Linked DNA regions of Homo sapiens: region 1 is linked to region 2. Evidence: fine-mapped expression QTL. A gene starts in region 2. The other region holds a variant in brackets. All regions are shown on one strand. Distances are between the middles of the regions.

Evidence for each region. PIP is the estimated chance that this variant, and not a neighbour inherited with it, causes the effect.
Region 1: its variant is fine-mapped to the expression of MAP2K6 in skeletal muscle (GTEx, PIP above 0.99).

The regions. Positions count from the first base shown.
Region 1 is chr17:69,497,986-69,503,364 of GRCh38, reverse strand. The region is part of intron 1 of MAP2K6 (mitogen-activated protein kinase kinase 6); the gene reads right to left. Among named protein-coding and RNA genes, the nearest start is that of MAP2K6-AS1, 15 kb to the right of the region's middle. The variant C/T (reference allele first, on the strand shown) is at 2,139.
Region 2 is chr17:69,411,657-69,417,035 of GRCh38, reverse strand. MAP2K6 (mitogen-activated protein kinase kinase 6) reads right to left here and starts at 2,339. Exons shown (of 12, transcript NM_002758.4): 1 at 2,036-2,339. The coding sequence starts at 2,051.

The DNA of each region.
Region 1 (5,379 bases), 86 kb before region 2:
TGCTAGGTGCTGGACCCAGTTATGAGAATCCAAATAGATATATGGCCTAATTCCAACAATTCCCATCCATGCACCTCAGCCAAACAGACAGGGAATGTTACTTTCGATGAGATTCTTCAGTGAGGAATGAATGACGGATTCAACTTGTTTAGATAACTATACAGATAACTACATACAAATTCCAGTGCAGGTGACAGATAATTCAGGTAATCCCAAAAGGCGACCCTACAGTTCTCTCAACGAAAACAAAAACTAAAGTAACATATATTTTGCCTATGAAAACTGGTCTCCAGTTGTCATTTAAGCAAACCAAAAGCAGAAGTTACTCTTAAATTCCTACATCTTTCTCTTCTTTACCTCTAACTCAGTTCTTACAAGATAGATGTAAAGAGAAATAGCTATTTATTGAGAAAACCCCTTTGGAAAACTTTAATATAGCAAGTAATTAGTAGCAATTCTTAACAGCAATTAATTATTACACCATAACTTAAATCACCAAAACATCTATACAAAGAAACAGTAAAAAAGAGAGAAAGTTTTTAGCACAGAGACCAAAGGAATAAAAGACCAAAATAATAGTAAAGTCTTCCAAGTGGGAGGAGAAGGCCTTTGATTCTCTCCCCAGATCACTGTTACACCCAGCCACCCCCACAGCCCCCCACATCAACATCATTCTTACCCTGAATTTACTGCCTCCTAGTTGAAATTGCCAGCCTCCTGTCTCCAGACTCTAAACCCTTGACTATGTATATAAGTTGGACATCTGCATATCTTAAACCTAATATTTCCAAGTATATCAGCTCCTCAGAACAACAAGAAAAAAAAATAGATCCAGGAGACACAAAACCTAGTTGAATTACAGTGTTAGAAAATACTCTGCCTTCACGTTTACATCAAATAAAATACAAATCACAAGCACACACAGCAACACTCTGCAGTTCGCTTACTTGCCCATCTCTGACAGAGCAGCACAGTAAGAGACCAGCAGAGGCGACTCTGGTGAGGTTTTCGAGGCTGCAAGGAAGACCAGCAGAGGAAAACCTAACAGAAGTCATTCTTCACTTAGCTCCAAAGACCACACTTCGGCAAGGAGAAACAGAACTGAACAGACTCCACCCCCTCCTCAAGTTCGGATTGCAGCAAACCTCTGCAAGCTCATTGTTCCGAGGAAATTGCAGCTTCAGGAAGGGAGAAGGGAAGTGGGTCTATGTGGACACCCAGGCGTGACATTAATCATTAACCAGACTTGGAGGAATAAATCTATAAATCTGGACAGTACCATGTTCTGCAGCTTTTCTATAAATGCCTCTTTGATTTCTTAAAAGAAAGAAAAACAATATGTGGTCAGTTTCCAGCTGTGTTTACTTCACAGCAATCTGTTCCCCCAGGAAGGCAGCCAACACCTGACGCTAACATTGAACACTGTTAAAAAAAAAAAAAAAAAAACATGGGAGGGAGCACTATGAATAATAAAGCTAAGTGGCCAACTATGTTCAACAGTCTTTGCCTTTGATATTCTAAAGCAAAGCAGAAAAAATGTCAGAAAAAAAAAAAGGCTTTCTATGATGTCATATGCTAGCAACAAGCCTTCTCGGAAACAGAGAATTCTGTAGATTTCTGCAGATCGCAACAAGCCTCGACTGCTTATTGGCACAGTCTGCAAAGGGTAAGCCTCGTCGGCCTGATTGGGCATATGCAGCACTATATTGCATCAGACCCTGTTACCCGCATGACTGTGTTCTCTGAAAATAGTGTAATCCCACCACACACATATATTTGCAAAATTCATCTGAAACCAAAGCAAAGCTGGGTCATTATAATCCTGGCCTGGAGCAAAATGGCACTGGAAAAAAAAATTTAAAAAGCCTTGCCAATAGTTAGAAAATATTTACCAGGCCACAGAAATGTTCGCTAGCTTTGACTGCACCGAAAATGATGGGGTACACGAGAGGTCTTGCACACACTCTGAGAGGGTAAGCACAAAGCACTCCTCTGATGTTCCTCATTACATAAAACAGAAGATTATGTTCCACTGCCAACCCAAACAGCATGAGAAGCCCACGCGGTCAACAGAAGGTGGCATCGTGAAGATATGCTGATGCCTAAATATTTGTTAGCTTGGCCGAGGGTTGGGGGCA[C/T]GACTATGAGAGTTTATGATTATTGACACAGCTTCACAAAAGGATGGCAGTGTTTCCAGTGCCAAATTTATTTTAAAAATCTGTTTCCCAATATGAATGGGATTTCCAGCCAAGTAACTGGCAATCTAGAGGCCTTGGCTGCCCTCTCCTTACTACTTGCATCTAGGCTTACGTTCCAAGGGTAGTTGGCAATAAAACCAGCAGTGAAGTATCATTCAGTGTTATTAAATTGCAATCATCATATGCAAAGCAACGAACGAAGCAGGGCAGGGGAAGAGGCATGCAGGAAGAAAGCTGGCTTTGCAACAGCAATGTAAAAGTGAACAGGGACTCTGCCATCCTCCAATCTTCCAAAACCACTGGCTCTTATATACCACTGAGATTCCAAACACTGAAGACAAATCTCTCTGGAATTACAGAAAGTTTAGAGAAGAAAAGCTGAAAACCTCTTTTTTTTTTTCTTTTTTTTTTGAGATGGAATCTTGCTCTGTCACCCAGCCTGGAGTACAGTGGCACAATGTCAGCTCACTGCAACCTCCGCCTCCCGGCTTTGTGTGATTCTCCTGCCTCAGCCTCCTGAGTAGCTGGGATTACAGGTGCCCGCCATCACGCCCAACTAATTGTTGTATTTTTTAGTACAGATGGGGTTTCACCATGTTGGTCAGGCTGGTCTTGAACTCCTGACCTCGTGATCCACCTGCCTCAGCCTCCCAAAGTGCTGGGATTATAGGCGTGAGCCACCATGGCCGGCCTTTTTTTTTTTTTTTTTTTTTTTTTTTGAGACAGAGTCTCACTTTGTCACCCAGGCTGGAGTGCAGTGGTCCTATCTAGGCTCACCGAAACCTCTGCTTCCCACGTTCAAGCAATTCTCATGGCCCTCAGCCTCCCGAGTAGCTGCGACTGGGAATACAGGCACGTGCCACCCCACCCGCCTAATTTTTGTATTTTTAGTAGAGATGGGGTTTCGCCATGTTGACCAGGCTAATCTCAAACTTCTGACCTCAGGTTATCCGCCCGCCTTAGCCTCCCAAAGTGCTGTTACTGGGATTACAGGTGTGAGCCACTGTGCCCAGCTGAAAAGCTCATTTTAAAACCTGCAGTCAGTTTGATTTCAGAGTCAGAATGAATCTCCTAAGACCTTACCTTTGCTCATACTGTTCCTTCTACCTGGAGGGCTCTAGCTGTCTTGCAGACAAGAACTCAACCTTCCAAATTCAAAACCTCCCTCATAGAACCTTCCCAGAGCTTCCTGAACACAATCTAAGGATTACTATCCACACATTCCTGCTTTCACATTCTGGCACCTTACACTCAGCCTGCAACACAATATGAGCTCAAAGCAGCTTCCCTGAAACTTTGATATTTTAGTTGAAAAATGTCCACTCTCTCTACAATAGATCTCCACGACCATCTTCCACTCATTTCCCGCAAACCTTTTCTCACAATCTAGAATTATTTTATTTTTGTATTTATTTATTTACTTCTGCATTTATTTATTACTTGTTTATCTACCTTTCTCCACTAGAATATAAGTTCCATGATGGCCAATGATTTTGCCCAGCACCTGCACATCATAAATATTTGTTGACTGAATGTTTGTTATTCTTTTCTCAACTGTTTTGAACATTTGTACAGAGCTCTTCAAAAAACAAACAAACAAAATGAACAACCAAGAATGGAATGGAAATTGCACAAACCTCTGCATCAATAAGAATCATTTCAAATCCCAGCTGTCCCACTTAGTGACGTAATGTTGAGAAAGTTTCTTATCTTAAACTGAGTTTCCACACCTGCAAACTGGAGATGATGTACAATCTCCGCAGGTCATTAAGAGACTCGATTGACACAGTGTGTGTGAAGAAGCCTAGCAGGGTGTAGCATAATATAGGTGCTCAATAAATACTTCCTTTTGTCCCTTCCATGTTTACGCTTACATTTTTAAAATATGAGTTAAGCAGAATGTTCCCTGGATGGCATCTTATTTCTTCAAATTCCGTGCTCCATTCTCCCTCTTTCGTGTTATTTACACTAGAATTACATTTTTCAAACATCTCATCAATCTTGAATCTACCTCTCTTTGTGCCCACTGACTATGGGAACTTCTCCAGGTCTATAGACTCAGGATTTCTGGGACTGAGTGTAGTGAGTGCTTATAATTTTACATTGCCTCAGTATCCATTTTTAAACCTAAGTTAAACTATCTCACATCAGAAGCAGGGCTCAGTCACTCTTAACACGGTGTCTAATACCACACTCCACCAGATTGGCTCCAAACCAGTGGCCAGACATGAAACTTAGAGACATCTCTCCTGCCTAGCAGGCTGGCCTCCCTACTTTCCTGCCACTCCCTTTAAACAGACCATGCAGACATTTGCCCACAAACGTAAGGTGACCACCTCTCAGTCACGCTGTGACCTCCTAGAACTAGTGCCTGCTTGCTTTAAACCCAGCAATTAAAGCTCCCTGCAGGAAACTGGATAACGCCCTGTACCCAATAAAGACATTGGCTCAGTGGTCCCTTCTCTCTCTCTCTGCGTGCACGTGTGTGTGTGTGTGTGTGTGTGTGTGTGTGTGTGGCTTCCAGGTGTGTGTGTGTGGCTTCCAGGCGTGCTGGGTGCCATACAGAGTCTCTAAGTGCTAAAAAGTCTTAAAATCTCACATTGTAGTTGTGTCACTGAAGCCACACTTGCAATCCTATCCCTATGGGTGAAACTGCCCCAAAAGGACCCATGCAGGTGGGTCCCCTGCTGATGCCCTTTTGTCCAGGTCTCTCAGCTACTGGGGACAGTAGTTACCAGCTAAGTTGATAGAGTGAGGCTTCAGGATCCATATATTTTTTTAAGTTTCACAAGTGTCTGAGAAATCAGCCACAGTTAAGTAGCCCTTGTCTACCACATGTCTATGTAAAGTTGTTTTGTGTTTGTTTGTTTGTTTGTTTGTCTTGTTTTACCATTTCTCACTTTATGTTGCCAACGTCACTTTCCTCCAAGGCTCTTGTCACATCCCCCACAACCCACCAGTTCTTTCTGATTAGTAAGAATTAAATTCCAAGCTAGCTCCTCACTGTGTTATCTCTATCTTTGAGCTGAAATTGTCAATCATTCCCCAGGGTACACATTGCAAGGGTCAAAACTTATTAAGATGCAATTCTGCCATCGAAGCATCAGGAGATATGAAAACCCAACTCCATAATAACAGCGGGTATGTGTGATGTGCAATACAAGCATTGCACCCTGAAAGC
Region 2 (5,379 bases):
GAATTGATTTGAAGGACCACCAGTACCTGATCCATTGTAAACACATCCATAGGGAAGAGTGCAGTGCTAATATCTCCTTTGGCTTCTCAACTCAAAAACTGGCTCTACTAAGAGGGAGCCACGTTCATAGTGAGCCCAAAAATATGCAAAAAGGAGCCTGATTTAGTTTAGACCCTAAAGTCCAAAGATAAGATCACAGTAAACACCACCCTCTTCATAAACCTTCCTGACTATCCCCCAAATAGATAAATCACTTCCATTTTTAAACTCCAATAGCACCATTTCTCTTCAATACCTGTCCTATTATCTTGTATTATAATGATTTCCTTACATTCTTGTTTTCACCAACCCGAAGGAAAAACTTCATTTTAAATATTTTTGTGTGTCCCTAAATCATGTGCACACATACACACACAATACATACATATACATGCATATATATACACACATACATATGTATATACATGCATATCACAATATATTACACATATATTAAACTGAATTGAATGAATGAGCGAATGTTTACCAAATACAAAGTAACTAAATGCCATCTCTTTAATACATCAAAGCATGGACTGCCTCTTCTGAACTATTATTTCTCTACTCAATAAGGAGATTTTTAGGTTTTCCCCACTTGAGGAACATCTCCACCTGATATGTCAATTCCTAGGTTCTTCAGCACTCTTAACTTTTCAGATTTCCATTCTCCCCTAATACTCAAAGAAAAGCAGAGTGCTACTTTGAATGCTTGAGATTACTACTTCCTTCTTGGGCTGCTGAGATATATGACTCCCATCAGGTAGAATTAAAAAGCGGTGCAACAACTCCCCACACTCCCTCCCAAAAAAGTAGCAAAAAGCTTGTTAGACCCTTTAATTTCACCATGTCTTACTCAAAGAGTGCCCCGGGTAGCCTAATTCAATAGTATCTAACACCTCTCTTCATCATCCCATACTTCTCATATGGCATATGCTTTCTCTATGGTAAAGAAACAATTGTTCTGAAACAAGTGACTTGGGGTCCCAGGGGCACCTGACAGCACCTAGTCTGCTCTTTGATGTCATATCAGGAATTTTTTAAATCCCCTTCCCAGGGTGACATTAAGCCTGCAAAATACAACTGTGTTTAAAAACAAAAATTAAGAAAAGAAAATAAAAGAACATAAAGAAAACAACCATAACGTGAACTTCCAACCTATTACAGCTGACTAAATACACGCAGTTACACACTTAAAATATTTCATTATGCTTGTCAATGAAACAGTGCAGTCCCTTCACACTACTGTAATGCTTAAAAGTACAGTTTTACCCCCAATATTTTCCCCCAAGATGCAAAGCATCCCCCAAATGGGCAGACATAAAACATTAGGTCTTCACTGCTGCTTCTAAATTTTGCGAGCCAATAAGCAATTGGTGTAAAGTGCAAAATCTCAGAAGAGCAAGACTCGTCTGCTTTTTTGTGATATGCTGTTATTCACCCTTCACCTTTACTTCCTTTAAAAATCAAAAGTTACCTAATGTTCAAGGCGATATCAATGGAAATTTAGCTAAATACTGGCACCGCAACGGTCTATTTCCCCCAAAGAATATAAGATTACATTAATTTCCTAGTAGTTTAACTCAAGTTTTACCTTTCATCTTCACCTATAGAGTTTTTAAAAGTTTCTATTCCTGTTGCATACAAAATTACTTACAATATCTGTGCATAGTAAAGAATTTTACAATTATATAAAGCCTTGCACATTTAGACGCTACCAACCTGCTCTGTCTCTCCTGACTGTGCAAAAGGCAAAAAGAGCTCAGTAATCCTAGCAGAAGAATGCAAATAACGTCAATGCACAGCTGAACTGCAAGCCCTGCCTTACAGGAACTCTCTGTGTCTGCAAAAAAAGACACATACTAAACAGGAAATGCAACTGAGCTGTGGAAAACCTCAAACTTAAAAATGCACTCGCCAGGCGAAAATTGCATCCATGCATTCATAAATGCATGCACAACCCTTTGCATTTTTGCAACTAATGCAAACAGCCTCTTACCTTTCGACTGAGACATTTTCCCCTTTCCTTTGATGGGGGAGGGGAGCACAAAAGACTTTGCCTTGCTTCTCTTCTGTAGCTAGTTTTGCAACAAAGATGCAAGCTGCAGGCGTGCAATCTTCATGCAAGTGGAGTTTCTCTTGACCGATGCAGCAGATGGACTTTCAGGGAATCAAGATGGAAATGCACACCTTGCAAAACAGACTGGAAAGTGATTTTTCCCCCAGTTGCAACGTTAGGGAAGGCTGTGCTGCAGCTACATGATGGGCCAGGGCTGGCAGCTAAAAGCTCCAAACTTGGAACTGAGTATCTTAGTGCGCAGACGTCCTTCCTGCGAAGGGCGCGAAGGCCGCTGGGTAATGTAGTTCTCCGGCGGAGTCCACGGGGCTCTGATTTAAGGAAACGTGGTCGCCCCGGTCGCTGAGCGAGATAACTGGGTGCGACAAAGATTGCGTCCAGATAAACAAGTCAGACACACACTCAGTAGAGTGATGGGTGAAAAGCGGCAAGGCCAAGACGGGGCGGCAGTTTTGTTCTCGAAAAGCCTCTGAAACAACAGCTAAAGAATATTAGGTTAGCTAAAGAGCTTTTGGCTTGTCGAGAAGGTCTGTTTGGGAGTTTAGTGTGTTGATTTTGCAGCTCAGCACCTGTTGTGCTGTTCTTGCCTGTAGACGTTTTACCCTCACACCTCCGTTTTTTGTTTGTTTGGGGGTTTTTTTGTTGTTGTTGTTGTTGTTTTTTTCCCGAGAGGGAGTCTCGCTCTGTCGCCCAGGCTGGAGTGCAGTGGCGCGATCTCTGCTCACTGCAACCTCCGCCTCCCGGGTTCAAGCAATTCTCCTGCCTTAGCCTCCCAAGTAGCTGGGATTACAGGTATGCGCCACCACGCCCGGCTAATTTTTAGTAGAGACGGGGTGTCAACATTTAGCCAGGCTGGTCTCGAACTCCTGACCTTATGATCCGCCCACCTCGGCCTCCCAAAGTGCTGGGATTACAGGCGTGAGCCACCGCGCCCGGCCACACCTCCATTTTTAAAAACATTTTTTCTAGTAAGAAAAATGTATGGATGATTGGGTTGGCTGGAGGTAAGGTTACCTTTGCTCTGTGGAGAAGATGCAAAGTTTTATTTTGTCAGAAACAATCCAGGTCAGTTATTTCCAAGGAACCCGAAACTCAGTAGGGGGTAGGTGTGGGGAAGAAGATTGGAGGCTTCTCATTTCTCACAGGGTTACAGAGGAAGTTCTGCTTTTTATACATCAACGCTAACTTTATCAAAATTAAGGTATCTAGATGATTTTTTCTCACCTGGGAGGAGAGTCCCTGGCCTAGGGGGAAAGTGGGTGGAAAATGAATACAGTCGAATATCTTGAATTTATTCATTAAAATTAAAAGATACTTGTTGAGTGTCCAGGATGTGCCAGGCGCCTTTCTAGGGCCCTGGGATGTTCATTCATTCTGTACCGCTCACACATAGTGGGTACACAGCACCCTGATGGAGAACGGCATCACCTTTTTCACAAGGAAGCCAGAGATGCTTAGCACAATTCACTGCAAGGAATGGAGAGGAGTGAGCAGGGCATGGGCAAAAATGAGCTCGGACTTATACTTCATGGAGCAGACAGACTCAGAAATGTTCTTTTAAGACAGAGGGAGGAATTGAGGAATTCAAGGAGGTGTGGACAAAGCACTGTGGCAGAAATAAGGACAACCTTACTCAGAAGCTGCCAAGGAGACCTTGTTGCCTTGTGTGCAGGAGTGGTGAGGGCGGGGGAGATTTACAGGTGAGGACTCCACAGGGCCTTAAAAGGTGGGCTAGAGGTTTGGACTTTATTCTGCAGGTACTTGCGGGGAGGTGAAAGGGTCTTGCAAAGGGGCGTAACTTAATCCAAGCATTGTTTTAAGAAAGTAAATTTGCCCTCAGCAATCAAGGTGGGTTGGAACTGGGAGAGGCTAGAGATAGGTTAGGTCAGTAGTGAAAGGCAAAAAGAGGCACTTTGAAAGAAGATTCAGCTAGATTTGATGATTACTAATGAAAACTATTGGAATTGTATTTAGGATGCTGGAAGCCAGGACCATCTGCATAAGGGATGCATTAGAGGGAAGGAAGCCGTCTTATTTCAGCTGCAAACCAGCAAATCAAATCTTAAATATGCAATAGGTTGTGAGACTAACATTAATTTACTTAAGTTGGTCCCCTTTACTGACATTCTTGACAATTAGTGAAGGCAATCTAATCTCCATATTAGCTTCTGCCCCTAAGAGGAAGGCATTGCTGGTCTGTGAACACAGGTGCAAGGACTTTCTAACTCTTTTATTGTCCTTCTAGGCTAATCCATGTTGTCCCTTCCCTCCTATCGTATACACACAAGCTCAGCACCCCCTCAAACCAGCATGGTTTCCTAAGTCTCATTTAACCAGGAGACACGTGTGAAAATCTAGTTCACTTTCCCAAACACTGATGGAGCCAGGCCCTGGGATAGCTGCTGGAGCTTTCTGTAAACTGGCTTAGCCCAGGCAGGGCCTGAACAGCCACCTAGAGCTTGCTTCAATTTGCATTTTATGTGGTCAGCTGCATTGCTCTTAAGTAGCCCCAGACTCCCTTCTTTATGGAAGAGTTCTAATCACAACTTGTCTGGTGCATTTTGCCACTGTCATTACTGCTCTTACTTTCTCTGCATAGGCGTGCGGAGTCCACAGCTGGCAAATGGATTGTAGCTTGAAAGTCAATCTGCAATTCATTTTCCCATAGCACCAACAATATGTTCAGCAGCTAATATACACACACAAGCACACATGCATACACAAAACACCTCTCATCCATAAATTGGCTGAATCATCCGTTTAAAAATAGCAAAATTTTGTATCATATTTCTTTCTGGGAAAAATGTATCCTGAATTTCAAGTAGGAAATTGGGATGACAGGGAACTCAACCTCTCTGTGAAGTCTTGGTTCCCAGAAGAAAAAGTTCTTCTTCCTGCCTTGGTGTTCAAAAGTTTCCTCTCCCACATACGTGGGTGGTGGAAGAGGAGGTACCTGTGCTCTTCTTCCTGCCAGTCTTCGTGGTATCATTGGTACTAGGAGGAGAATCCTCCCCATTGTGGCGTAAGAAGGCAGGAGTGAATTCTGGCAGGTGTCTCCTTTTATATGCACATCAAGTGTTCATCTTCAGGTGGCCCATGCTTCTGTTTTAAATCCCCCATCTTTTTTTTTTTTTTTTTTTTTTTTTTTTTTGAGATGAGTCCTCGCTCTGTCACCCAGGCTGTAGTGCAGTGGCGCAATCTCGGCTCCCTGCAACCTCCACCCCTCAGGTTCAAGCGATTCTCCTGCCTTAGCCTCCCGAATGGCT